Homo sapiens: one gene and its partners. The main gene of each other region encodes a partner of the protein of the gene in region 4 in a complex. Each region holds a gene or a part of one and is shown on either strand. Other genes may lie near its edges.

Region 1 (7,026 bases), on a different chromosome or scaffold from region 4:
AAGGATCTGGAGAATCATGACGGGCCCTCCTTGGGGGTGAAGTGTCTGAGGAGTCATGACGGATCCTCCTGGGAGGAGATGTGTCTGAGTCATGACGAGCCCCTCTGAGGGGAGAAGGATCCGGGGTGTCATGACGGGCCCTCCTAGGAGATGGATCCGGGGTGTCATGACGGTCCTTCCTAGGAGATGGATCTGGGGTACCATGACGGACCCTCCTAGGAGATGAATCCGGGGTATCGTGACGAAAATGTCTGTTTGAGGGTAGGTCTTCGTTGTGGCCTAAACACAAATAACAAAGAGTCAGATTCCCACAAATGCTCTGTCCCTCTGTCCACCCCCACACCCAGTTTCAAAAGATGCTCCAGTAGCACATACCTCAGAACTGCTCAGAAAGCCCAAAAGGCCTGCACAGTTTTCTTGCTTAGGGGCAGCAAACCACCACTCATGAATATCTTAAGAATAACCCCTCCGCCTACCAAGTCATAAATTTGCAAAGCATTTTCAGCACATTTTTCATATTATACCCTTTAAGGTAAGCAGGGCAGGTACCCTTGTATTACAGCATGAAAACAGAGGCCACAGCCTCTGTTTTCAGCTGAGGAGCTGAGTGATTTCTTACCTAAGGTCACAGCTCCTAAAATGAAGACACAGGCTAGAATCCAAGTCTTCTAACTCCCAGTCCAATGTTCTTTCTAAAACCTCATTTGTGCAGAGTTCCCAGCTAGTGGCTCCTACTGATATTTTGCCTAGATACTTTATAGTTTGTACTCACTCTTCTTTCAATAGGTAAATTGACTAAAACGGTGAATATCAAAATAAAATGCTGTTAACTATTTAATCCATTTCACTGTGCTCTTTCTTAGAGAGGGGAAAAATCACCATAAAAAAGAAAGGAGCAAGTAATTACCAATCACCTACTGTGTGCCAGTGTTTCATAGAGATTACCTGATTCAATTCTCACAACAAGCCTAGGACATAAATACTGTCATTTCATTTATAGATGAGGAAGTTGATACTCAGAAAGATTAACTTGCCAAAGTCATATTGCTAATAAGTGGTAGAGGAATATTTAAATCCAGCTCTATTTGACTCCAGAGTCCATGTGCAATCTTTAAAATATGTAAAGCTTTAAAGTTAAAATACATAGTTTGAGACCTTCCATATTCAAAGGCACCACAGAATGAAATATCTATAGCAACTGGAACAGTTTCAAAATCCAGTTCTTCCTCTACCTCTATTTCTTGTCATTGAGCTCCACAGCCCAAATACAAATAAAAGCTGGGTAGGAACTGATGAATACTTGTTAAATGGATGAATTAAACCAAGTCAACTCCTTTACTTTGGGGAACAGCCCTATCTGATTGGAATCCACTCCACAGAGAAAAGTATGATGTCTGTGGGGGGCCTAACAGTAAATCTGAAGGAAGCAAGGGTCAGAGATTGGTAAGCGTACTTCCAATAACAAATTGGGATGGGGGAGTGAAAGCAAGGCAGAAGAAAAGGAGTGAGTGAGTGTGAGTGTGACTGTGTGTGTGTGTGACTGACCTTCTAAACATTCAGATACACAAGAAAAGGCACCGTGTGTATGTGTGTGTCTGTGTGTCTTCCTAGACAAACAGACATGGAGACCAAAAGATTCTCTTTGGAAAAGAATTCTGATTAGGCTACAAAAATCAAATACCTACTAGCAATTAAACAATTCTACAAATATTTATTAAAGGTAGCTCCTTGTGCTAGATAGGGGAATATCATGGCAAATAAGACTAGTCTATGCTCAAACAGATGTGACAAACAAATGCTTTTTATCCAATTCTCAAGGACTCAAATTTTTTTAAAGAGAGTTAAATTAAGATTATTAGCTTAGGAAGAGTCCAAAGTGGGCAAGTGGAGGGTAATGCACTATAAAACACCAATACTTAAGGAAAGAAGAGAGAAATTTACTAACACAAACAGAACAAAATACACTGGTCCTTGACCCCCCAGAAATGAGTTGCTTCATTGTGGAAGAGGATAGTGGTAGCTAAAGTCCCCAAATTCTGCTCCTGTTTCTTGTAAACTCCTCCCAAAGTCTTGCCTATACACCAAGTGCTCTCCTATTCTGAGTCAAAGAGGAATGGGTGCTCAAAGGCCTCCAAATTAGTCACCAACCTCAGTAATCCTAATGCCAAAATATAAGAGAAAGAGGAATATCTGGTCTATAAGTTCCTATGTCTTACTACCTCTGAAGAAGTCCAACTTCCTTTTTCCTGCTTTATTTTTCAGGATCAATGACATGCTAAAACAAACTATGCATTCCTCTAAAGAAAAGTATAGAAAAGGAAAAAAGATCTCCCCTACTAATGGAAATTTAGATTTATCTATTGTTGGAACTCACCTCCCAGAAGCTTCCATTTGGCACTGGAACGAAAGGCCTCCATCTGCTTTACCTCTTCTGGCCGCTCATCCACAAACTCTGCCACCTGTGAGAGTAAAGATTTCCTATCTTAGGAAATCCACAGGATCCAGCCAAGAAGCACTGTCTCAAGAACCTGAAGTTACAACCATTCCGATTCCTAACACAAGGGCGTACATATATCCAAAATGGTCATGAAGAAGTAAGTAGGGGTCTTCAGTTATGTTTGCTCCATAAACATCTGATTGTCACTGTATTGGTTTAATTGTAGATCCTTCTCTAATTAATCAATTACCCTGCAAAGGTTAATTTTTTTCATTACAAACCTTTTTATTAACCTGCTAGGTACACAACAGCCACTTGTAAACTAACAACTAAATTCCTTTTACACTTTTACTTCTACATTAACAGTGGAAACATAGGTGGCTCCCCCCATCATGCCTAGCACTAATCAAGGACTTTGGGTTTCTATGAATCCTTTCTTGTTGTAGGTAGTCACAGTGATAGGTTTTCTTGAATACAACCAAAAAGAGCCACTGAGATGTACACAGAATCATTAATCTTTAAGAGCTAAAACCACATTTCATATCTTCTAAACTTCTGAACAAATCAGAATCTTCTCTATAGTATTCCTAATAAGTGGTCACTCGCCCAATCCCTTCCTGACAAGGAACTCATTATCTTACAACACAGTCCACTGCATTTTTCAAAAATGTTAGAAAGTTCTTAGTTTTACTAGTACCGTATCTGCCTTCCTATAACTTCTTTGAATTCATTCTAGTTCTGACCTGTGATGTAAGTCCACATGACAAACTTTCAAGATTGCTGGCATAATAAATCCTAGTTACAGAGTAGCAACTATGTGCAAGGTACTGTGTTTTGTGGTTTACTCATATAATCTAACTCGATTCTCACAATAATCCTGTAAAGAAAGGCTCCACACTACTGAATAGCAAACTGATTCGGAGAAGTTCAGTAACTTTCTCAATGTCACAAGCTAACAAGTGGCAGAACTGGAATTTAAATCCAGGTCATAATAGCCCTCTACTTCTCCCAAAATCCTACCATCATTCTTCATATAACCCAGTTTTGAGATCTCTCACTGAGCGTTAAAAGCACAGGTTTCGGGCAAGATGAATTAAGATCTAAACCCCAGCTCGGCCACTTAGCATTTGTGTAACCTTTGGTAAATTATTCTAAGCCTCAATTTCCTCATTTGTAAAAGTGGGATTCAAAGGATTGCTATAAGGATTGAATGAGATAATTCACGTAAGCTTAGCCATGCTTGGTACATGATAAATGCCCAATAAATGACACCTATTAATTATTCCTGTGCTGCCACTGCTATCGTAATCATCATAATCGTTTTACCATTATTACTGGTGGTGGTGGTGATCTTGCAGTTACAAAAATGAATTCAGTAATCAAGATCTGTTTTAACCAATGCAGAGAGCAGTGGCACTAAAGCCTCCTTTGTTTAGGTTTTTGGGCCATCATAAAAGCAAGACAATATTATAAAAGAAAATGGCCAGGTGCGGTGGCTCATTCCTGTAATCCTAGCACTTTGGGAGGCTGAGGCGGGTGGATTGCTTGAGCCCAGGAGTTCATGACCAGCCTAGGCAACACGGTGAAACCCCGTCTCTACCAAAAACACAAAAATTAGCTGGGCATGGTGGCAGGCGCCTGTAATCCCAGCTATTTGGGAGGCTGAGGCAGGAGGTTCACTTGAACCTGGGAGGCAGAGGCTGCAGTGAGCCAAGATTGAGCCACTGCACTCCAGCGTTGGTGACAGTGTGAGAATATGTCTCAAAAAAAAAAAATAATAAAAACAATTATGAACTAAGTGAAAAGGCAAATGATAAAATACACCCACAACATAAGCCTAATGAACATATAAAAAATGATTCATTTCACTAGTGTTCAAAGAAACTGGGCCAGGCACGGTGGCTCACGTCTGTAATCCCAGCACTTTGGGAGGCCGAGGCAGGCAGATCATGAAGTTAGGAGATCAAGATCATCCTGGCTAACACAGTGAAACTTCATCTCTACTAAAAATACAAAAAATTAGCCAGGCATGGTGGCAGGTGCCTGTAGTCCCAGCTACTCGGGAGGCTGAGGCAGGAGAATGGCGTGAACCCGGGAGGCGGAGCTTGCAGTGATCCGAGATCACGCCACTGCACTCCAGCCTGGGCAACAGAGTGAGACTCCACCAAAAAAAAAAAAAAAAAAAAAAGAAACTGGATACCATTACTCACTTGCTAAATCAGCATAGGTTTGCTATTGGTTTTGTTTTGTTAATAATCCTTCAATATTGGTGGGGCATGTGGCTAACACCTGTAATCCCAACACTTTAGGAGGCCTAGGCAGGAGGATCACTTGAGCCCAGGAGGTCAAGACCAGACTGGGCAACACAGAGACCTCATCTCTACAAAAAATACCCAAAATTAGCCAGGCATGGAGGTGCGCACCTGTGGTACCAGCTACGTGCAGGACTAAGGTAGGAGGATTGCTTGCACCTGGAAGGTAGAGGCTACAATGGGGCATGATCACACCACTGTATTTCAGCCTGGGCAACAGAGCAAGACCCTGTCTCAAAAATAATAATAATAATAATAATAATAATAATAATAATAATAATAGTGCTCTAATATTGACGACGTAGGCAAACTGGCATTCTCATCACCTCTAGTGGGAGTGTAAATTGGTAGCACCTTTTGGAAAGCAACATGGGAATATAACTAAAGCGAACCATACCCTTTGATCCACTCATTTCATTTTATGGGAATAAAGAAATAAACTGATTTCTACAAATGATTTATGTACAACGATGTATGATATTTTATAAGTGGAAACAATCCATGTATCCAGTAACAGAACAGATAAAATATATATATTGAACTACTACATAACCGTTAAAAATCATACACTCAAAGAATATTTTAAGGTCTTACCAGAGTATCCACAACATATTATTTAGCAGAGGAGTAGACTCCAAAACCCTATGTACAATATGATCCCAATTATGTTCAAAAAAATAAAATACAAGCGTGTATAATCTCTAAAGAGAAAAACCTGAAGAGATATGCATCCAAGTATTAGCAGTTATCTTTGGATGGTAACATGCAAGTGTTTATTCTTTTAAAAACTTTAAACTTTTTTTAATTCCCAAATATTCTGTAATAAATATGCATTGCTTTTATAAAATTAAAAAAAAACAACAAACATTGTTAATATTTACTTCTTCTGACCAAAACTAAATTGGCTCCCTAAGATCACTATTTCCCTTCTAATTACTAGCAAGCCCTCTTTTAAATAATCTATTTTAGAATTTTGCTGGGAATTGGCCAGGTGCAGTGGCTCACACATGTAATCCCAGCCCTTCAGGAGGCCGAGGTGGGCGGATCACGAGGTCAGGAGATCAAGACCAACCTGGCTAACATGATGAAACCCTGTCTCTACTAAAAATACAAAAAAAAACACAAAAAATTAGCCGGGCGTGTTGGTGGGCCCCTGTAGTCCCAGCTACTCAGGAGGCTGAGGCAGGAGAATGGTGTGAACCCAGGAGGCAGAGCTTGCAGTGAGCCGAGATCATACCACTACACTCAAGCCTGGGCAACACGGTGAGACTCCGTCTCAAAAAAAAAAAAAAAAAAAGAATTTTGCTGGGAATTAATATTAAATACTCACTGGAATCCATCTTTACCAACTTTAGTGGAATTCAGCCTATCTACAGCTCTCCTTTCCACTTTGTTTCTCAGAAATTCTCAGCAATGGTTTCATGAACCACTGGGAGGTCATTTGCCTATGATTTTGTCCACCTGGCTCTTACTTACCCTTCAAAACTCAGTATTTACATCTTTCAGGATATCTCCCAACAGAATACAAAGTATGCTACCTCCCCGGGCTCTAATGGTACTTGGTACGTATGTGAAACATCCCCAACATTTACCATACTGTTGAAATTTATCTGAAATTCAGTTTTTCATTCTAGGGTATAATCTCTAAAATACAGCTATGTTCTATTAATCTACATATCTCCAGTACTTAGGCAAGAATATACAATTTGAAAGCTTAGTTAAAGCACTGAAAAAAGGAGCAAATAAAAAGTTCCCTATAACTGAACCTCAGCATTGTTTTTAAGAAAGATTCCAACAAAATGAACCACAGCTAAGTCTCATCATTACTCTAACACTGATGTCGAGAAGTCCTCTCTCTGTGATCCATCTCATTTCTAGGCTGATGGACCCTCCATAAAGAGACAAGTTGGTGTATAGGCATCAGCAAAGAAAACTATTTTAAACAGCTCTTTGGAAACTGTCACCTCTTTTCTGTTCTCAACTAACCCCCCTACAAATCTACCCTAAGCTGGAAAAATAAATTTGAGAAGCTTGGCCTGGCACAATGGCTCACGCCTGTAATCCCAGCACTTTGGGAGGCCAAGGTGGGTGGATCACCTGAGGTCATGAGTTCAAGACCAGCCTGGCCAACATGGTGAAACCCCATTTCTACAAAAATTAAAAAAAAAAAATTAGCCAGGCATGATGGCGGGTGCCTGTAATCCCAGCTACTCAGGAGGCTGAGGCAGGAGAATCATCTGAACCCGGGAGGCGGAGGTTGCAGTGAGCCAAGATCAT
Region 2 (7,026 bases), on a different chromosome or scaffold from region 4:
GTGAGCCACCGCTCCCAGCCTTTTTTTTTTTTTTTTTTTCTCTCTGTCAGCCAGGCTGGAGTGCAATGGCGTGATTGCGGCTCACTGCAACCTCTGCCTCCCGGGTTCAAGCGATTCTCCTGCCTCAGCCTCCCAAGTAGCCAGGGTTATAGGTGTGCACCACCATGTCTGGCTAATTTTTTGTATTTTTAGTAGAGATAGTTTTCACCATGTTGGCCAGGCTGGTCTCAAACTCCTGACCTCAGGTGATCCAGCCACCCACCTCAGCCTCCCAAAGCACTGGGATTATAAGCGTGAGCCGCCACACCCGGCCTTCTTTGATGCTTTTGCTAGCCCCTTACAGTCGACACCTTGGGCAGCTTTTTACCATGAGCCTGCAATTGGAATAAGATTTTCCTCTTATGTCCTCACAGAAATACCTTGTACTTTTCTTTCATAATGCCCATCAGTTTGTAACCACATACATGTGTGGATAATGATTGTTTACTGTATCTCTCCCCTGCTAGAATGTATCTGTTTTGCTCACCCCTGCTCTTGGCACGCAGCAAGTACTCAGTAAATTTTTGTGGAATAGGCTGGATGTGGTGGCTCACACCTGTAATCCTAGCACTTTGGAAGGCTGAGGCAGGAGGATTGCTTGAGCTCAGGAGTTCAAGACCAGCCTAGACAACATGAAAAAACCCCGTCTCTACAAAAATACAAAAATTAGTTGGGCATGTTAGTGTGTGCCTGTAGTCCCAGCTACTTGGGGGGCTGACGCAGAAGGATCACTGGAACCTTGGAAGTTCGAGGCTGCAGTGAGCCAAGATTGTGCCACTGCACTCCAGCCTGGTAACAAAGTGAGATCCTGTCTCAAAAAAAAAAAAAAAAAAAAAATTAGGGAATGCTCTGCCTAAGTTTCACTGCTGCTTATTGGACATTGCTTCAGGTACCACATCGAGGTGAACCGTGTTCCTGCTGGCAACTGGGTTCTGATTGAAGGTGTTGATCAACCAATTGTGAAGACAGCAACCATAACCGAACCCCGAGGCAATGAGGAGGTAGAGTTTCTGAAGAGACCAACTGGGTTGGCTTAAGCTAGATGGTCCCAGGGACACACATGAGCACAAACGGGACTAATCCACAGTCATTGCCATGTCCTGGTTTCAGGCTTAGCCTTCTAGATATGACCCTGCTGGATTCTCCCTGTACTCAGTTCAGATGCGAGGAATTAGGACGGGTGCCTTTTATTATTTTCCTCCTCTCTTTGTTCTGCCAGAATACCTGGGAAGAAATGGCCCTTCAGGTTACCCCCACTCAGCACCAGGCTCCTGGTTGGGGAATACATAGTCTGATCCTAAGCAAGTCCTCTTCTCTTCTCATACCTCTGCACTTTCTGTGCCTGCTCATGCCAGTTGCCCTCAGTCCTTTGTGCTTTGGATCTCAGGCTCAGATTTTCCGACCCTTGAAGTTCAATACCACATCTGTTATCAAGATTGCTGTGGAGCCAGTCAACCCCTCAGAGCTGCCCAAGATGCTTGATGGCCTGCGCAAGGTCAACAAGAGCTATCCATCCCTCACCACCAAGGTATGCCCATGGCCTGCAGCAGCCGCCAAGCCCCACTATCCCCAGCTGAATGGGCAGAGCTGCACACCGCTTCCCATCCATCAGGTGTTCATGATCTGCTGCTTACAGGAAGCTGTGTCAGGAGCAAGCCCAGCCTATGGCTGTCATGTCAAGGCAGGACAAGACACGTGTGTGTGTGTATGTGTGTGTGTTAAAACAAGACCTGTGTAGGAGGGGGCAGTGATGGGGGGTATAGGACAAGGTTGTGTGTGTGTGTGTGTGTGCGTATTTGTGTTCCGCAGATGTCTTTATCTAGACAAAAATACATTTCTTAATGAGTATACTTTGAATTGATTTTCTCGAGAAGAGAAGGAAAAGTGAGTTGTTACTCTGATCCTTGTACACTATGAGCCTGCCAGTGTACCTTTCCAGGTAGCAGGCCAGGAGGGCTAAAGGGCTAGCTTATGTCCATGGGTATAGGGTAGAGTTTGACCTAAATCATTAAGATGGGAATTAAATCATTGACTTCACACCTAGTATCACCATGCTGAGTGGTCCTGGTGTCTTGAGGACCCACTCATAGGCAGATGCTCCTCACTGAACCTTCTTGAAGAGGCTGGAACAGATGCTAAGTAGTAGCTGTTTCTGATAGGCAACTTCTTGTCTGCTCTGGCCTTGATTTTGTTTGTGTGTGCCTTTGCTGGCATAAGAGAATCCAGGCTGTGACTGCCTGTTGTGTTTCAGGTGGAGGAGTCTGGCGAGCATGTGATCCTGGGCACTGGGGAGCTCTACCTGGACTGTGTGATGCATGATTTGCGGAAGATGTACTCAGAGATAGACATCAAGGTACAGCAGTATCTGCCGGGAGCTGGGTTCACGGTCCAGACTTTTCACAAGTGACCAAATCCTTGAATTCCTGGGAAGCTCCAAGGGAAGAGAGAGTACATGTGTTTGTGAAAACCATGATCTGTTGCTCCTTATATGGGAAGGTTTTTGAGAACTGGTTTGCCCCCTTCTGCTGTGTCATACGTTTAAAATCAAGGCTCAGCCGTGCTTGGTGGCTCACTCCCAGCACTTTGGGAGGCCGAGGTGGGAGGATTGCTTGTAGCCAGGAATTCAAGACCAACCTGAGCAACAAAGTGAGACACTGCCTCTACAAAAATTAAAATAAAAAAAATAGCCAGGCCGGGCATGGTGGTCCGTTGCTGTAATTGCAGCACTTTGGGAGACTGAGGTGAGAGGATTGCTTGAGCCCAGTTTGAGACCAATCTGGGCAACATAGTGAAACCTCGTCTCTACAAACCAGCCCAGTGCAGTGGCATGTACCTGTAGTCCAGCTACTGGGGGGCTTAGGTGGGAGGATCACCTGAACCTAGACTGTCAAGGCTGCAATGAACTGTGATTGTGCCATTGCTCTCCAACCTGAGCCTAGGAGGTCATGGCTGCAATGAGCAATCATTGTGCCATTGCTCTCCTTTTTGAGATGGAGTCATACCCTGTCTCAAAAAACTAAAAAATAAAAATTAGTCAGGTGTGGTGGCTTGCACCTATAGTCCCAGCTACTCCGCAGGCTGAAGCAGGAGGATTGCTTGAGCCCAGCAGTTCGAGGCTGCAGTGAGCTACGATCATGCCACTGCACCCTAGCATGGGTGACAGAGCAAGACCCTGTCTCAAAAAATAAATGCATTGAAAAATAATAAAACAGGCCGAGCACGGTGGCTCACGCCTGTAACCCCAACACTTTGAAAGTCCAAGGCGGTTGGATTGCTTGAGGTCAGGAGTTCAAGACCAGCCTGACCAACATGGTGAAACTCTGTCTCTACTAAAAATACAAAAATTAGCCAGACATGGTGGCGGGCACCTGTAATCCCAGCTACTCAGGAGGCTGAGACAGGATAATTGTTTGAAACCGGGTGGCAGAGGTTGCAGTGAGCCAAGATCGCACCATTGCACTCCAGCCTGGGTGATAGGGCGAGACTCTGTCTCAAAAAAAAAAAAAAAAAAAGGAAAAAGAAAATAAAGGCTCCCAAGCCAAAGTTATTCTTGGTCCTTTGTTAGGGAAATAATTGCACAATTAAACAATTAACCCATGGGTGGTGATTAGGTCTCAGAGTGGGTGGTTTCAAGGAGAGGGTGGGGACTGTCTCTCCCAGATTCTTTGTCAAGCCTTGATGTAGCCCCTCAAACCATGTGTTGCTTGGCCTCCTTGTCCTAGTTGAGTCGTATTTTCTCCAAGGCCCTGTGGAGGACCCTCAATACCCCTCTTAGACTCCTCTACTGATGTATCTAGGAAGGAGGAAGGATTGGTGTCATAGAAAACACTGGGTTTCCTGGGCAGCAGACCATGTTGGGGCTTCAGGGCAGAGCTTCACTCAGATGCTGTGGGTTGAGAATGACATGGGTGCACGCCAGTGGGTCTCAGCACCAGCTCTGTCAGACCCATGGGGGTTGTTCAGTGAATGGTGGTAGATGGCTGAATGGATGCTGAGAGCTACCTTTGAAGACTAGAATTAAGGCCCTAGTTTGATACCCCACTTACTCTTGGCTCAGGAATCTAATTTCTTTACTACAGTAAGTTTTCTTGGGCTTTTTGGTGATGATTTGGACAGCTCTTTTAACCTGCTGTTGTACTTATCACTTGTGCTGATTAAGGCAGTTGGGGTTTTCACAGAGGTAGTGTCAAGGGAGCTTCTGAATTCCCTTAGGTAAATGGTTGCCCTTCCAACAAAATTAGACCTCGCTTCAGTAATTTATTTTCTGTTTCCCAGGTGGCTGACCCAGTTGTCACGTTTTGTGAGACGGTGGTGGAAACATCCTCCCTCAAGTGCTTTGCTGAAACGCCTAATAAGAAGTAAGCTGGGAGCACAGTGTCCCTGGGACTGCAGCCTCCTGGACACTCTCTCTCCTTTATCTTCCACCTCTACCCCCACCATGAGCACTATGCACATAGAGACCTCTACAGCTCAGAATAGGGGGTGCTTACAATACTTGAGTTTCACTCCAGCCCTCTCAGCCCTTCTGCCTTTGAACACAATGACATGGGATTATTCGCCTTGGGTATTCCCAAGAGGAGTTTCATAACTGCCACTTTGTCTCTATAAAATGACTATCTTAAAAGTTTACTCCAAATCTTACTCACTTTTTGTTTTTTTGTTTTTTTTTTTTTTGACACAGGCTGGAGTGCAGCCTCAACTTTCTGGGCTTAAGCAATCCTCCCAAGCAGCTAGGACTATGGGCACACACCAGGCCATCTGTTAATTTTTTTATTTTTTGTTGTCCAGACTGGTCTTGGACTTTTGGGCTCAAGTGTTCCTCCCATCTTGGCCTCCCAAATTGTTGGGATTACAGGTGTGAGCCACCATGCCCAGCTTAAACCTTACTTTTTTTTTCTTTTTTTTAAGACAGTCTCGCTCTGTCGCCCAGGCTGGAGTACAGTGGCACGATCTCGCCTCACTGTAGCCCCTGCCTCCCAGGTTCAAGCAATTCTTGTGCCTCAGCTTCCCCAGTAGCAGGGATTACATGCACGCACCACCACACCTGGCTAATTTTTTGTATTTTTAGTAGAGGTGGGGTTTCGCCATGTTGCCCAGGCTGGTCTCGAACCCCTGACCTCAGGCAGTCCGCCCGCCTCGGCCTCCCAAAATGCTGGGATTACAGGCATGAGCCACCACGCCCAGCTTAAACCTTACTTTCATAAAGACCAGTAGATTGAAATGAAAGAAAGATGAGCCCTTTGCCCTTTTTGCTCCACCTTGCCCCTGATACTGTGGCTTTTTTTTTTTTTTTTTTTTTTTTGAGACAGGGTCTCACTTCGTCACCCAGGCTGGAGTACAGTGGTGCCACCATGGGTCACTGCAGCCTCAACCTTCCGAGCTCAAGCGATCCTCCTACCTTAGTTAGCCTCCCAAGTAGCTGGGACTACAGGTGTGCTAACCACACCTGGGTTTGTTTTTCTTTTTTTTTTTTTCTTTTGAGACATAGAGTCTCACTCTGTAGCCCAGGCTGGAGTGCAGTGGCTCGATCTCAGCTCACTGGAACCTCTGCCTCCCGGGTCCAAGCAATTCCCCTGCCTCAGCCTCCCGAGTAGCTAGGACTACAGGGAGTGAGTGTCACCACACCCAGCTAATTTTTGTATTTTTAGTAGAGATGGGGTTTCACTGTGTTGGCCAGGCTGGTCTCGAACTCCTGATCTCATGATCTGCCTGCCTCAGCCTCCCAAAGTGTTGGGATTACAGGCATGAGCCATCGCACCCGGCTGGCTAATTTTTTATAGAGATGGGGTCTCTTGCTTTGTTGCCCAGGTTCTGTTTGTTTGTTTGTTTGTTTGTCTGGGGTTTTTTTTTGTTCTGTTTTGTTTTTGAGACAGAGTCTTGCACGGTCGCCAGGCTGGAGTGCAGTGGCACAATCTCGGCTCACTGCAACCTCCGCCTTCTGGGTTCAAGTGATTCCCCTGCCTCAACCTGAGTAGTTGTGATTACAGGCATGTGCCAGCGCACGCCACCACGCCCAGCTAATTTTTTGTATTTTAGTAGAGATGGGGTTTCACCATGTTGGCCAGGGTAGGCTCGATCTTCTGACCTTGTGATCCGCCCACCTCGGCCTCCCAAAATGCCGGGATTACAGGGGTGAGCCACCGCGCCTGGCTGTTTGTTTTTAAGAGGCAGTATGTTGCTGTATCACCCAGACTGGAGTGCAGTGGTGTGAGCCATAGCTCACTGCAGCCTCAAATTCCTGGGTTTCAGTGATCCTCCTGCCTTGGCCTCTCAAAGTGCTGGGATTACAGGTCTGAACCACCACGCTTGGCCCCTGTGGCTTTCACTGATGTCACTTCCTCAGCTGTCCGTCTTGTTACCCTTTTCTTAGTAATGCCTCTTCTGCTGTTCTGTTAGCCGTCCTTACCACCCATTTCCATTCTGACCAGGAACAAGATCACCATGATTGCTGAGCCTCTTGAGAAGGGCCTGGCAGAGGACATAGAGAATGAGGTGGTCCAGATTACGTGGAACAGGTGAGAACAGGGCTCTGACGCCAGGGTCGAAAGGAGGCAGGGATGCCACAGTTTAACTGCCGGGTCTCTAAGAGCACACATCTTTCTGGGGAGCATTTATGTCTTTGCCTTTGCTCTTGTTCTGGGCACAGTGGGTAGGATGAAGTGACTGTCTTCCAGGAAGGGAGGGTCTGTGGCTCCAGGACCAGCAATCACAGAGCTGGCTGACAGCTCCATTGTCTCCTCCCTTCCCCAGGAAGAAGCTGGGAGAGTTCTTCCAGACCAAGTACGATTGGGATCTGCTGGCTGCCCGTTCCATCTGGGCTTTTGGCCCTGATGCGACTGGCCCCAACATTCTGGTGGATGATACTCTGCCCTCTGAGGTACAGCAGAACTGATGGGAACTGGGTGGCGGTCTCTTACCTCTGGAGTGGAAGAAACTACAAAGTGTTCTTTTCCCAAAAGTATCTTGTGTCCTCTGGTGAAGGACAGT
Region 3 (7,026 bases), about 13 Mb from region 4:
GGCCAATTCTCTTACTTAGTATGATTTCTTGGTGAAGTCTAGAAGGGTAAAAGTTAACAGAAAAGTATCAATAAGATGAATTTCTCGTTTACTTTCCAACACCAGACTAGACACTTTTCATAACACGAACAACTGCATTACACTTCAAATGAAACAGACTCTTTAGAAGACATTGTCTAATATCACCTATCAGTTCTTTCTTCCAGGGGACACTAATTTACAGATTATCCTAAAAGAAAGATTATCCAGAAGTGTCAAACACTTGACACTTCCAAATTTAAAAAATCTTACCGTCTTACTGGAGATCTACTCCTTCTATGCCTTGGTGGAGGAGGCATTCTTCTTGGCGGAGTTCTTCTTCGAGGAGATGGCCGCCTTCTTGGGCTTGGCCGCCTTCTAGGTGAATACGATCTGCCATAACAAAGAGAATTAGGTCCTGAATAAACCAGGAGTGAGGAATTTCTTGGCTTAGTTTTCTCAATGGCCACATCTAAAAAATAAATTTCAAAGATCAAAATTTTCCATTTATGTAGATTTTTATGGTACACAGAAAAGTGTCCTCAAATTCTCTGTGTACATTCAAAAAATATTTGTACTAAACATCTTCTACCACTTTGAAATTATTTATCTAATTGTACCCAGTAGAGTAGTATATAAAACCTAAGATCTTTGTTGATCTTAAAGCCACAACTCACCTTGATCGGGATCTATGGCGCCGTCTAGGTCGAGTGTGAGAAGGAGAGCGGGACCGCGTCCGGGATCTTGATTTGGAGCGTGACCGAGATCGTGGTCGGGTCTTCTCCTTCTCCTTTTCTTTTTTGGAATTTTTTTCCGGAGAAGGTTCTTTAGGCTCTGGTATAGGTTCAGGTTTGGGAACTTTCAGAATGTCACTGTGGAAACAAAAGCTTTTTTTTTTTTTTTTGCCTTCTTGTACTCAGCCTTCTAAATCATTACACAATGATGTAATAAAGTATTTCTAAAACTTTTCAAAATTCACAGACTTGTCTCTATCTCCAAAAGACACATAAGTATGTATGTACCTATCACTGAAACCCAGAGAGCAACTAATAATTCCAACCATGTACATTTTCTTTTCTTCTTCTGAGACAGGGTCTCACTCTTGTCACTCAGGCTGGAGTGTACTGGCATGATTTTGGCTCACTGCAGCTTCAACCTCCCAGGCTCAAGTGATCCTCCTGAGTAGCTGGGACTATAGGCATGTGCCAACCATGCCCGGCTAATTTGTGTGTGTGTGTGTACATATATATATATATATATATATATATATATATATTTTTAGTACAGATGGAGTTTCACCATGTTGCCCCAGGCTGCTCTCTAACTTGTGAGCTCAAGCGATCCACCCACCTCAGCCTCCCCAAGTGCCGAGATTACAGGCATGCACCCCCGCATCTGGCAACCACATACATTTCTTAAAAGTGCGAAGTTGTCCACAATACGTTGAGGAAAAAAAGCAAGTTACAATATATAAAATACCTGAAACAATACAACCAAAAGATAGTAATGGTCACCCTCTGGGGCATTTTCTTCTAATATACTCTCCTAAACAATTTCTTTTCAACAAACTAATTTTATAATTTAAAAAATCTAAAAGGAAAATAAGTAGTTTTATTTTAACTCAGATGTCATATTTGCAGTCACTATTAATCTAAAATTGTGATTATTTATAAATGAATTTTTATATACTTGCCTAGTAGAAGTAGCCTCTTGTACTGAAGGTTCTTTTACTTTCACTGAAGGTTCTGGGAGCTCTGGAGTTTTTTCCTTCTTTTCTGGAGCAGGGGAAGGACTCCGGCTCTTGGTTCTGTGACGGGGAGATCGAGAATGACTGCGCTTTCTCTCTCTCCTGACAGGGGAAGATCGTCTTCTAGGGGAAGGAGATCTGGATTTGCGTCTAGGATGAAAGTAATTTTTTTCAGGTTTTTAAATAACATGGATTGGAAGAGAGGAGTCAAAGGGAGAAGTGAGGATTAATCTTTAGTTACACTACTGTTTATATCTGAGATGTTTCCCTATGGAAATAAGACATGCTAACCTAATCTACTTGACAGGGAAGAGAAAGACAAGCAAATGAAAGATAACATTCTCGAGTATATCAGTTATAAGGGAGAAAAGCACTAACTTGGGACTCTAGACTTAGGTTCTTAATCATTCCCAGAGATCAAAAGACCAACTTTTCAGAGGCAAAGAGGATGCTTTAAAGCAAACAATGATAATCCTTGACAACAAATCAAACTCCCAAACATAAAACATTTAGATGCGGACAGATTACAATGGAGTTCATCAGGAAGAGCCTCAGTATGCCAGAAAAATGACTAATACCATTAAAGCAACATGTTCTTCAGAAAAGAGAAATATACATCAAACATCCAGAAGATAGCTTTTTTGCGAGAGGAGAAGCCCTCTTTCTTAACAGTAGCCTGCCTAACTCGAAGGGTTTTTCTCTTATTCACACAGAAGGAAAATGGCAGACATACTTCATCAATAGTCAAGTAGTTACCACCATGACAATTTGTGCTTAGCTCTATAAATATTACTTCCATAAGGAGATTTTAGTATCAAATATATAAATGAAAGGGACAAAGAAATTACCTCTTCTCTTTACTAATTCCAGCAGACATTTATGAAAGAAATAAGCAGAACCCTAAAAATAAAAAGCCTAATGGAGTTCTCACCTTTCACCACAAATATAGAAGCTGAGCCGTGGATTTAAAAATGTGAACCTAACAATAGTCTCACTGGAAGAAGAAAACAAATAAATGATCTGAAGTTTGGGTTCAGTACAACCATCTAAGAAAAGCAGAACAGGGAATTAGGTAAGTATTACATGAACGGCTAATGAGTACAGATTTCGAGTACAGATTTCTTTTTAGAAGAAAGGAAATGGAAAGAAAAAGTGAGTCAGAGTACATTTTTAAAAACCCAAATTAACTGTTATGAACTAAAGCAATATGGAAGAAAAAGTTTAAAGTTTTGATTTAGGAATTTAGAGTTGGATAATTTATGAACATCTGCGAGACACTCATGGCTAAATTATCTGTCTCAAACAAAATATGACAGATTTCTTTAGTCCAGAGGCAAGGCACAGGTCACCATGAAAACTGCATGATGGAACAAATTCCTTGAATAGCGCTGTTAGATTCCTTTTTAACTAAGGAAGTTTCTTAAGACCTAAAGTACCTGTAAAACATCAGTTATGCATCTATTGTATGATACCTTCTTGGGCTACGAGACCGCTCCCTTTTTTCTCTGCTGCTTTCTTTTTCTTCCTTATCTCTTTTATCTTTGTCTTCATCTTGCTTTTTCATAGATGCCAGTTTTTCTTGTTCAATCTGCAAAGACCAGGTTTTCAAAATACACATAGTTGAACATTTGAGAACAAACTGAAGACTACTTTCTACGTGTGTTAAACACCAATGCTATTATCATTTCATCGGCCTCTTCTTTTGAACCAGACCTGTTCTTTCTTCACCTACACTACAGATACGCATTAAGACTGGTATTATCGCCACTCATTTACAAATAAATATTCACTGAAAGTTAATCTCTAAGACCTGAACTAAAGAGATGTTTTCAAGCTTACTTCAAAAAAATAAAAATAAAAATAAAAAATAAAATAAAAAAGAAAATCACTTTCACATTGACCTTATTCTTTCTGGGAGTTCATCTGTATTGCCCATATTAAGAGTTTATGCTGGCTGGGCACGGTGGCTCACGTCTATAATCCCGCCAAGGGCGGGCAGATCACTTGAGGTCAGGAGTTCGAGACAAGTCTGGCCAACATGGCAAAATCCCGTCTGTACTAAAAATACAAAAATGAGTTGGATGTGGTGGTGTGCGCCTGTAATCCCAGCTACTCAGGAGACTGAGGCATGAGAATCGCTTGAACTCAGGAGGTGAAAGCTGCAGTGAGCAGAGACCACACCACTGCACTCTAGCCTGGGTGACAGACTGAAACTGTGTCTCAAAAAAACAACAAACCAAAAATCCTTATGCTTACCTTTCAGTGTTAAATTCAAATTTCTTTTAAGCTACATGCACTCACATATTAAGAATTTGTAAAAATCTAGCAAATCACTAGACTGGGAAAATGACATTCTAAACTCAATGTTTGGTTGGAGGGAGGAGCAGTGAACCAAAACTGAATGTTTAAATACAGTACAGCAAAGCAAAACTACATGAAGATCCTAGCTGAGTCATATACTACCTAAGGTGTCTCGGCAGCCTGGCCAATACTCTCAAATCGACATTACAGAAAAGAAAAGGTTATTACCTGTCTTTGTTTTATTTCTTCTTTCTTCAGTTCTAGGAAAGCAGAAGGGATTCCCGCGATGTTTTCTTGTGCACTTAGCAGCAGGGGCCACAGTTCTCCCATAAATTCTCGAGCATTTTTTCCATTCAAAAATCCAGTCAGGTTGATTTGCATCATTTTGGAGTCTGGATTCTGCAAAAAGACACGACAGGAAGAAAAACAGGTTACTTCAAAACCAACCAACCAACAAATCAACCAACCTAAAACTCATTTAAATTAGTATTTTTTAAGTCTACCATAGGGGCTTAGACATATATATAGTCCTTACTATTTTACAAATAGTCTTCCCTAGTAGCTTCTCAGCAATATAATCTCTAACAGATTACCAAATTCTCTCTCACTCTACCAAAAGCATCAGAGCAGCCTGTTAATCCTTTGTGGATTTCGTAAGTATTTTTAGACTCTGTGGCTGTTAGTGGGCCTTACATTTATTAACTTTAAAAACCATCATGAAACATCCACAAATTCTAGTATTTACTAACAAGAAAAGTATTTGCTTGCCTGGAAATTTTCCCCCAATGAGAAACGGAAAAAGTACATAAACTGCTCCCTAACACTACAGATAGCTTTGCATAAAATATCTATTGTCCAGTTATGAAAACTAACAAGTTATGCATGCAGTCTGTAACTTCTGAGGGCTAAGCTAAAGGCCTGAGTTTTATATAAGGAAAATCTATTATAACAATGCCTCAAATTCTCAACTGTCCACAAAGTGCTAAGAGGTCAAGATTTCTCAAAAATAATTGGGTTTTTAAATGCTAAATCCGTTGGTCAAGCAACAAGGTCTGTATAACAAGCACAGCTCAATAGCACAAAGCAAGTACAGATTCCAGGTGTCTTCAGTTTCTTCTTGGAACCTTGGGGGTTTGGAATCGCCAAGTCCCCTGTAGAGAAAGATGTTCCCTTGGCTTGCTTCCGACTCCCTACTGCAACTCAACCACCTTGAGTTTAATGTTATATCATTTATCTAAATTGCAAAAGACGAACAAGCAATAATGAGTACACAACCACAAAAAAAGAATTGTCTTAAAAAGTTCTAAACTTTAATCTCATGCTCACTACAAGGGGAATACTACCAGATACTTAGGTTTTTAAAATGCACTAAAATACACATCAGTAAAGCATTTCTCCAATAAAATCTATCTTCAATCATCATTTAAAAAACTTTCTCCCCTGTTCCTGGTTTTCTAAGATGCATATACTTTATAGAAAGTGCATTCTTAAAATTAGTCTTTAAAAATATTCAAAACAAAATACAAACACCAAATTATTTTAAAACTAGAAATACCTTATCAGTTGAAATGCCAACTGTTCTGTCAAAACATAGGGTGAACTCTTTGGGGGAAATGATTAATGTAAAAGTAAATTCACATTGGTATATATGCAAAAAGGTCATATGGTACATATCTTAACTGTCCTTTGGGTTGCTGTGGCAAAACAGAAACTGTCTTACAATAAGAATGTTCTTAAACATCAGTTATATCATCATATTATCTCATGTATAAAGGAACAATTATATGCTGCCAATTTGTCTGAAGTTTAAGTATAAACAAAAATCCTGTCTCTAAAATGTAACTGATGACTAGCTGACATGCAGCTACAAAGACCTTAGTTCCTTTAAAAACAATATCCAATCAAATCAGAATTGCCCCTCATGCTTCACATAAATGTCCATCTCATAATAGTATTTTAAAAGAGCAGTGTACAGCTTTACCCAATTGCTCTTTCCTGTTTGTGTTTTTTGTTGTTGTTGTTGATGTTTGGCCACTTTACACAACTCACCTCCAAACACACACTGCATCATCAAGGGAGTTGGGTCAGAGCGACATTGGGACACTCACTCTGCTGTGACCTAATAAGGTGATGGTGCTATACTTCAGACGCAAGGAATAACTTCCATTTTGGTTCAGGCCTTTTAAATCATAAATCACATTATCATTAGAAAATTGCTGTCAAAGTAACTTAACATGTAACAGCAAAATTACAAACAATAAGTTTGATTTTTCACCTGTGTAGCTTTCAAAACTATGCACCTTCACTAAACTTCCAGCCTTAATAGTTGTTTACAAAGTGAATTCTTTTCACAACAAACATTGTAAAATAACCCTTCTATATTTGCACTCCATAGAAAAAATTCAGTTTCCAAAGATTCACAAATTATATCACATATTCAGAAACAAGAGCCATTTGTATATTAGTACCTTCACTTCCAGCTGGTTGAATATAAACTCAATCACAACATCATCTTCAAACCCAAGGATTTCCGTTACTCTTTTTGTTATCCAAGGCTTTATAACCTCCAAATTTACTTTGCTCATGTCCACCTGATGAAACATAGAAACAATTAAGTACAACTTCACAATCCTAAAAAAAAATGCTCAAGTTAGAGTTCTGTCTACCAAAGTTCCTTTTAGCTTAGTTTTTTTGTTTGGCATAGTAGAATCTGCTAATTTTTTTTTTTTTTTTTTGAGACAGAGTCTTGCACTCTTGCCCAGGCTGGAGTGCAGTGGTGCTCAGCTCACTGCAAGCTCCGCCTCCCAGGTTCGTGCCATTCTCCTGCCTCAGCCTCCCAATTAGCTGGGATTACAGGCACCCGCCACCACGCCCGGCTAATTTTTTGTATTTTTAGTAGAGACAGGGTTTCACCGTGTTAGCCAGGATGGTCTCAATCTCCTGACATTGTGATTTGCCCG
Region 4 (7,026 bases):
TCTAATTTTTTGTATTTTTAGTACAGACAGGGTTTCACCATCTTGGCCAGGCTGGTCTTGAACTCCTGACCTTGTGATCCACCCACCTCAGCCTCCCAAAGTGCTAGGATTGCAGGCGTGAGCCACTTCGCCCGGCCTCTTGTTTCTTTTTTTTTTTTGAGACGGAGTCTCTCTTTGTCGTTCAGGCTACAATGCAGTGGCTCCATCTCTGTTCACTGCAACCTCCACTTCTGGGTTCAAGTGATTCTCCTGCCTCAGCCTCCCGAGTAGCTGGATTACAGGCATGCGCTACCACACCTGGCTAATTTTTGCATTTTTAGTAGAGACGGTTTCACCATGTTGACCAGGCTGGTCTTGAACTCCTGACCGACCTCAAGTGACCTGCCCCCCCCCTTGCCCTCCCAAAGTGCTGGGATTACAGGCGTGAGCCACCATGCCCAGCCTATAAGACTTGTTTCTGCTGCCTCTCATGCTCAGTGGCTTGTTTCCATTTCCTTGTGTGTGTCTAGTATTCTTTAGTATTTGAGCTTATGCTTAGGGCTCAAATCTTTTTTTTTTTTTTACCCCCCTTTGGAGATTTTTTTTCTCATTGGAGATTTTGCCTTGCTTATTGAAAGCCCAACAGTGCATTAAAAATTTAATAAGTATCTAGTTAAATTATAGTGGGAACATCTCTCCAAGTAGCTCATCTGCCAAGTCTATATATAGAAATATGTGGTCTTATTGTGAAACTTGCCCCTTCTCTTTTTTCCCCTCCCATTTAACAATATATTAGATATCTTTCTATGTCATTATCTCATTCTTTTTCATGGCTGTGAAGTATTCCTTTGTATGAATAGATAATAATTTAACCATTCTACCATTGCAGGACATTAGGTTGTTTCCAGTTTTTTTTTTAAATTACGAAATTACAGTAAACACATTCATATGTATGTCTTTGTGCGTTTCTGCTAGTATTTCTGTAGGATTGATTTCTATAAGTGGCATTAGTGGTTGATGAGATTTTGATTAAATAATGTCAAATTGACCTAAATAGGCTATGCTAGTTTATACCTGTACCAGCAGTGGCTGAAAATACCCATTTTTCCTGTACCTTCTTTTTTGACTCTAGATATTATTGATCTTTTTAATTTTACTAATTAAGGAGAGAAAATTCATATTTCTTTTAGAATTTGATGCTTTGGTTATTAGGGTAAGCATATCTTCATGTATTTATTGGACATGTAATTCTTTTTTTTTTTTTTTCAAGACAGGGTCTCTGTTGCCAAGGCTGGACTGCAGTGGTATGATCATAGCTCACTTCAGCCTCGACCTCCTGGGCTCAAGTGATCATCCCACCTCAAATTCCGAAATAGCTGAGATTACAGGTGCATGCTGTCGTGCCTGGCTAATTTTTGTATTTTTTGTAGAAATGGGGTTTTGCCATGTTGCCCTGAGCTTAAGCAGTTCTCCTGCCTTGGCTTCCCAAAGTGCTGGGATTACAGGCGTGACCCACTGTGCCCGGCCCTTGGACATTTATTTCTTCTGAAAATTGTTCATTTTTCTGTTCTTTTTTTATTTTTGAGACAGAGTCTTGCTCTGTCATCCAGGCTGTAGTGCAGTGGTGGAATCTTGGCTTACTGCAATCTCTGCCTCCCAGGCTCAAGCGATCCTCCCACCTCAGCTTTCCGAGTAGCTGGGACTACAGGCATGCACCACTGTGCCCAGCTAATTTTTGTATTTTTAGTAGAGACAGAGTTTCGCCATGTTGCCCAGGCTGGTCTCAAATTCCTGGGCTCAAGCGATCCATCGCCTTGGCCTCCCAAAGTGCTGGGATTACAAGTGTGAGCCACTGGCACCTGACCATTTATCAGTTTCTCTGTTGAATTATTTCTTATTGATATATTAATATGCAGTAGTCTCCCCTTATCTGTGGTTTCACTTTCTGCATCTGAAAATATTAAATGGAAAACTCCAGAAAAAAACAACTCATAAAATTTAAATTGGTCACTATCCTGAGTCACTTGGTATAAACTTCTGCTGTCCCACCAGGAACGTGAATCCTTCCTTTGTCTGGTGTATCTGTGCTGTATGCGCTACCTGCCTGTCCATCACTTAGTAGCCATCCTGATTTTCAGAAAACTGTTGCAGTTTGCAGTGCTTGGATTCAAGTAACCTTTATTTTATTTAGTAGTGGCCCCAAAATGCAATAGTAGTGATTTTGGCAATTAGGAATGCTAAAGAGAAGCTGTAAAGTGCTTCCTTTAAACGAAAAGTTGAAAGTTCTCAACTTAAAGAAATTAAAACAAAAAAAAACTTTTCAAATCATATATTGAAGTTGCTAAGATCGATAGTAAGAATGAATCTTCTATTGTGAAATTGTGGAGAAGGAAAAAGAAATTCATGCTAGTTTTGCTGTTGTACCTCATACTGTAAAAGTTATAGCCACAGTTCACAAGTGCTTAGTTAAGATGGAAAAGGCATTACATTTATGGGTGGAAGACATGAACAGAAATGTGTTGCATTTGATGGCAGTCAGGTTCGGTACTATCCGTGGTTTCAGCCATCCACCATACTTAAAATGTATCCCCCTGGGACTACTGTATGGTTTGTGTTGCAAACATTTTCTACCAGGCTGAATTTTTTTTTTTTTTTTTTTTGAGAAGGAGTTTCACTCTTGTTGCCCAGGCTGGAGTGTAATGGCGTGATCTCGGCTCACTGCAACCTCTGCCTCCCAGGTTCAAGCGATTCTCCTGCCTTAGCCTCCTGAGTAGCTAGGATTACAGGCATGTGCCACCACACCTGGCTAATTTTGTATTTTTAGTAGAGACAGGGTTTCATCATGTTGGTCAGGCTGGTCTGGAACTCCTGACCTCAGGTGATCCACCCGCCTCGGTCTCCCAAAGTGCTGGGATTACAGGCTTGAGCCACCATGCCTGGCCTAGGCTGATTTTCATTGCTATCTTTTTCAAGAAATCATGGTATGTTTCTCCATTTCTTCACATCTTTAAAAAACATTTATTTTAATGAATTTTTACAGATTTCTTCTTATATGTCTTTCATGTTTCTTAAGTTTATTTCTAGGTATTGAATTTTTTTTTTAACTATGGAAGTAGGATTTAAAAACTTACTATTATATTTTCACTTTTGGCATGAGAGAAAGCTAGTTTCTTTCTTTACATATCTTGTACCTGACTACTTAACTCTTAGTTCTATTTTCTGTATATTCTTCCCTGTAAGTTTGCCCATAGTTACCTTTGTTCTGAAAAGGAGGGAATTATTTTTCCTTCTCCTTTCTGGACTAAATAGTCTCTTGTTTTTAGGGCTGTGGACCTGGACTTGTGCTATTAGGGCTATAGTTGAATAGCAGCATGGGATATCATCTTTGTGGCCTTGCGAGGGAACATAACCACCAGACATAATCTTATTTCTGTGGGAAATGTTGTTCTAAATGCCAAAGTCCAAATTACAAGACTTTTTGCATGCACTTCGTTCAAAAAGAACAAGATTTGGGCTGCCTTTAGATTGTGCACTGCGTTTAAATTACAGAATCTGTTTGAATTTTAGGAGCGTGAGGATCATCCCCGGAGAGGACGGGAGGATCGGCAGCACAGGGAACCATCAGAACAGGAACACAGGAGAGCTAGGAACAGTGACCGGGACAGACACCGGGGCCATTCCCACCAAAGGAGAACGTCTAACGAGAGGCCTGGGAGTGGGCAGGGTCAGGGACGGGATCGAGACACTCAGAACCTGCAGGCTCAGGAAGAAGAGCGGGAGTTTTATAATGCCAGGCGACGGGAGCATCGCCAGAGGAATGACGTTGGTGGTGGCGGCAGTGAGTCTCAGGAGTTGGTTCCTCGGCCTGGTGGCAACAACAAAGAAAAAGAGGTGCCCGCTAAAGAAAAACCAAGCTTTGAACTTTCTGGGGCACTTCTTGAGGACACCAACACTTTCCGGGGTGTAGTCATTAAATATAGTGAGCCCCCAGAAGCACGTATCCCCAAAAAACGGTGGCGTCTCTACCCATTTAAAAATGATGAGGTGCTTCCAGTCATGTACATACATCGACAGAGTGCGTACCTACTGGGTCGACACCGCCGCATTGCAGACATTCCAATTGATCACCCGTCTTGTTCAAAGCAGCATGCGGTCTTTCAATATCGGTAAGTAACATGGAGGAAGAAACTGTAATGTGAGCAGAAACAATCACTCAGTTAGGATTACTAAGATTTTTGTTCATGTTTATGCAGAAGAATCCCATACCCCTCATATGTTATCTAAAGAGTATTGTTAATCTAACTGCCCTTTAAATAATTGCTTACATATTTATAAGAACATTAAACTTTTAATCTATTTTTTATTTTTTTGTGACAAGGTCTCACTCTGTCACCCAGTCTAGAGTGCAGTGGAGCAAACACAGCTCACTCCAGCGGCAACCTCCTGGGCTCAAATGATTGTCTCCTGCCTCGGCCTCCTGAGTAACTGGGACCACAGGCGTGTGCCTCTGTGCCCAGCTAATTTTGAAACTGGATCTTGATAGCTTGCATGGGACATCTGTGATGATTCTCACAACAATCCTGTGAGAAGGATAGGATAGATTTTTTGTTTTTTGAGACGGAGTCTCGTTCTGTGCCCAGGCTGGAGTGCAGTGGCGCGATCTCAACTCACTGCAACCTCTGCATCCCGGGTTCAAGTGATTCCCCTGCCTCAGCCTCCCGAGCAGCTGAGAGTACAGGCACACACCAGCACACCCAGCTAATTTTTGTATTTTTAGTAGAGACGGGGTTTCATTGTATTGGCCAGGCTGGTCTCGAACTCCTGACCTCGTGATCCGCCTGCCTTGGCCTTCCAAAGTGCTGAGATTACAGGTGTGAGCCACTGCGGCTGGCCCGTTTTGTTTGTTTGTTTTTTAACATGGTCTCCTGACTTCGAATGGACACGTATTTGTATCCCCATTTGACAGATGAGAAGACTGAAGCCCAGCAAAACCAAGTGACTTGCCTAACAAATGATCACTATAGTACAGTGGTCCCCAACCTTTTTGGCACCAAGGACCAGTTTCATGGAAGACAGTTTTTCCATGGAACCGGGGGAATTCGGGATAATTCAAGTGCATTACATTTATTGTGCACTTTATTTTCTAATACTATCACATTGTAATATATAATGTAATAATTATACAACTCACCATAATCTAGAATCAGTGGAAGCCCTGAGCTTGTTTTCCTCCAGCTTGATGGTCCCATCTGGGGGTGATGGGTGACAGTGACAGATCAGGCATTAGATTCTCGTAAGGAGCGCGCAACCTAGATCCCACCTGTGCACAGTTCACAATAGGGTTCATGCTCCTACGAGACTCTAATGCCACTGCTGATCTGACAGGAGGCGGAGCTCAGGCAATGATAATTCAAGTGATGGGGAGCAGCTGAAAATATAGATGAAGTTTGGCTCGCTTGCCTGCTTGCCCGCTGCTCACCTCTTGCTGTGTGGTCCGGTTCCTAACAGGCCACGGACTGGTACCAGTCCATGGCCCAGGAGCTGGGGACCCCTGCCATAGTAGAACTCTGGCTCAAATATAGCTCCCTTGACTCTGAAGTCCAAGTGCACTGTTTTTTCCCATTTGGACAGGAACTAAAATATATTGAAATATAGGTTAAAGAAACATTATGTTGATTATAAACAACAGAAAAAAATGTATTTTCTTAACCACAGCAAGAGACATTGGATTCTGCATTTCCACCTTTTGATCTACCATGGATTCTCCCCACCTTCCAGCAACTCATTCTCACCTTTTTTTTTTTTTTTTTTTTTGAGACAGAGTCTCGCTCTGTTGCCCAGGCTGGAGTGCAGTGGCGTGATCTCGGCTCACTGCAACCTCTGCCTCCTGGGTTCACGCCATTCTCGTGCCTCAACCTCCCAAGTAGCTGGCTCCACAGGCGCCCGCCACCATACCTGCCTAATTTTTTTGTATTTTTAGTAGAGACGGGGTTTCACCATGTTAGCCAGGATGGTCTCCATCTCCTGACCTCGTGATCCGCCCGTCTCGGCCTCCCAAAGTGCTGGGATTACAGGCGTGAGCCACCGCGCCCGGTCCATTCTCACCTTTTCTAAGTATATTTAAACTTCCAATTTTCCTTCCCAGGGCCATGCTTTCCCCTTGATTTCTTTGATTCCCTAGAATTTTAACTTGAATTGTGCTCAAGCCAGGTTATTTACGTCATCTAGGCTATCTTAGCAAAGAGCTTTAGAGAAGCTGGATGATCTGAGGCAGAAGTTTGCTCACAGGTTTCTCCTTTTTTTCTGCTAGGCTTGTGGAATATACCCGTGCTGATGGCACAGTTGGCCGAAGAGTGAAGCCCTACATCATTGACCTTGGCTCAGGCAATGGAACCTTCTTAAACAACAAACGTATTGAGCCACAGAGATACTATGAACTAAAAGAAAAGGATGTACTCAAATTTGGATTCAGTAGCAGAGAATACGTCTTGCTCCATGAGTCGTCGGACACTTCTGAAATAGACAGGAAAGATGACGAGGATGAGGAGGAGGAGGAAGAAGTGTCTGACAGCTAGCAAACTAAGAACCCAAACTATTGATACACGGTTTCCTTCTTGGAAGTCTTTGATTGACTCAGAGAGCACTATGGTGGTGGGTCCAGCACTATGGTGCTCTCTGTAATGCCTCTTACTGCCTTAAGTCTTTCCTCTGTTGCTGACCAGATTGTGTTACCATTTGAATACACTGACTAATGTTTGTTAAACTTTTTCTGTGGCACCTTGGCCACATGCCTGCAGGCATTTGTTTTCAGAACAGTCTCACCAATTACAACACACCGTGTTTTAGTAGAAGTGTTGTGGTTTTAGTTGGTGCTTTCAGAACTGCTGCCTAGGAAACTATAAACCCTTGGTTAAGGGGAAATCATGGCTTGTTCTCTTTGTACAGTTACTTTATTTATATAGGTGTTAAGCTTTGTGGACCAGGTGTTTTTCTTTTGGGGCGAACCCCTGAGCAGAGAATCTTACTAGGCTTTGGTTATCACCAAAA

What was found.
Region 1: SNIP1 (region 4) and BUD13 share a complex: the UniProt entries of both Homo sapiens proteins name them as parts of the minor spliceosome.
Region 2: SNIP1 (region 4) and EFTUD2 share a complex: the UniProt entries of both Homo sapiens proteins name them as parts of the minor spliceosome.
Region 3: SNIP1 (region 4) and SRRM1 share a complex: the UniProt entries of both Homo sapiens proteins name them as parts of the minor spliceosome.

The regions. Positions count from the first base shown.
Region 1 is NC_000011.10:116,762,988-116,770,013, forward strand, and holds part of BUD13 (BUD13 homolog), read right to left. Parts: intron 2,460-7,026; coding exon 2,375-2,459; intron 280-2,374; coding exon 1-279. UniProt on the Homo sapiens protein: Involved in pre-mRNA splicing as component of the activated spliceosome. As a component of the minor spliceosome, involved in the splicing of U12-type introns in pre-mRNAs.
Region 2 is NC_000017.11:44,854,446-44,861,471, reverse strand, and holds part of EFTUD2 (116 kDa U5 small nuclear ribonucleoprotein component), read left to right. Parts: intron 1-928; coding exon 929-1,040; intron 1,041-1,426; coding exon 1,427-1,567; intron 1,568-2,290; coding exon 2,291-2,392; intron 2,393-4,314; coding exon 4,315-4,397; intron 4,398-6,467; coding exon 6,468-6,554; intron 6,555-6,789; coding exon 6,790-6,916; intron 6,917-7,026. UniProt on the Homo sapiens protein: Required for pre-mRNA splicing as component of the spliceosome, including pre-catalytic, catalytic and post-catalytic spliceosomal complexes. Component of the U5 snRNP and the U4/U6-U5 tri-snRNP complex, a building block of the spliceosome.
Region 3 is NC_000001.11:24,646,298-24,653,323, reverse strand, and holds part of SRRM1 (serine/arginine repetitive matrix protein 1), read right to left. Parts: intron 6,658-7,026; coding exon 6,535-6,657; exon of another isoform or gene 4,466-6,534; coding exon 4,295-4,465; intron 3,354-4,294; coding exon 3,238-3,353; intron 1,916-3,237; coding exon 1,712-1,915; intron 891-1,711; coding exon 696-890; intron 412-695; coding exon 292-411; intron 1-291. UniProt on the Homo sapiens protein: Part of pre- and post-splicing multiprotein mRNP complexes. As a component of the minor spliceosome, involved in the splicing of U12-type introns in pre-mRNAs. Involved in numerous pre-mRNA processing events.
Region 4 is NC_000001.11:37,537,276-37,544,301, reverse strand, and holds part of SNIP1 (smad nuclear-interacting protein 1), read left to right. Parts: intron 1-3,546; coding exon 3,547-4,145; intron 4,146-5,565; exon of another isoform or gene 5,566-5,613; intron 5,614-6,289; coding exon 6,290-6,554; 3' UTR 6,555-7,026. UniProt on the Homo sapiens protein: Required for pre-mRNA splicing as component of the spliceosome. As a component of the minor spliceosome, involved in the splicing of U12-type introns in pre-mRNAs. Down-regulates NF-kappa-B signaling by competing with RELA for CREBBP/EP300 binding.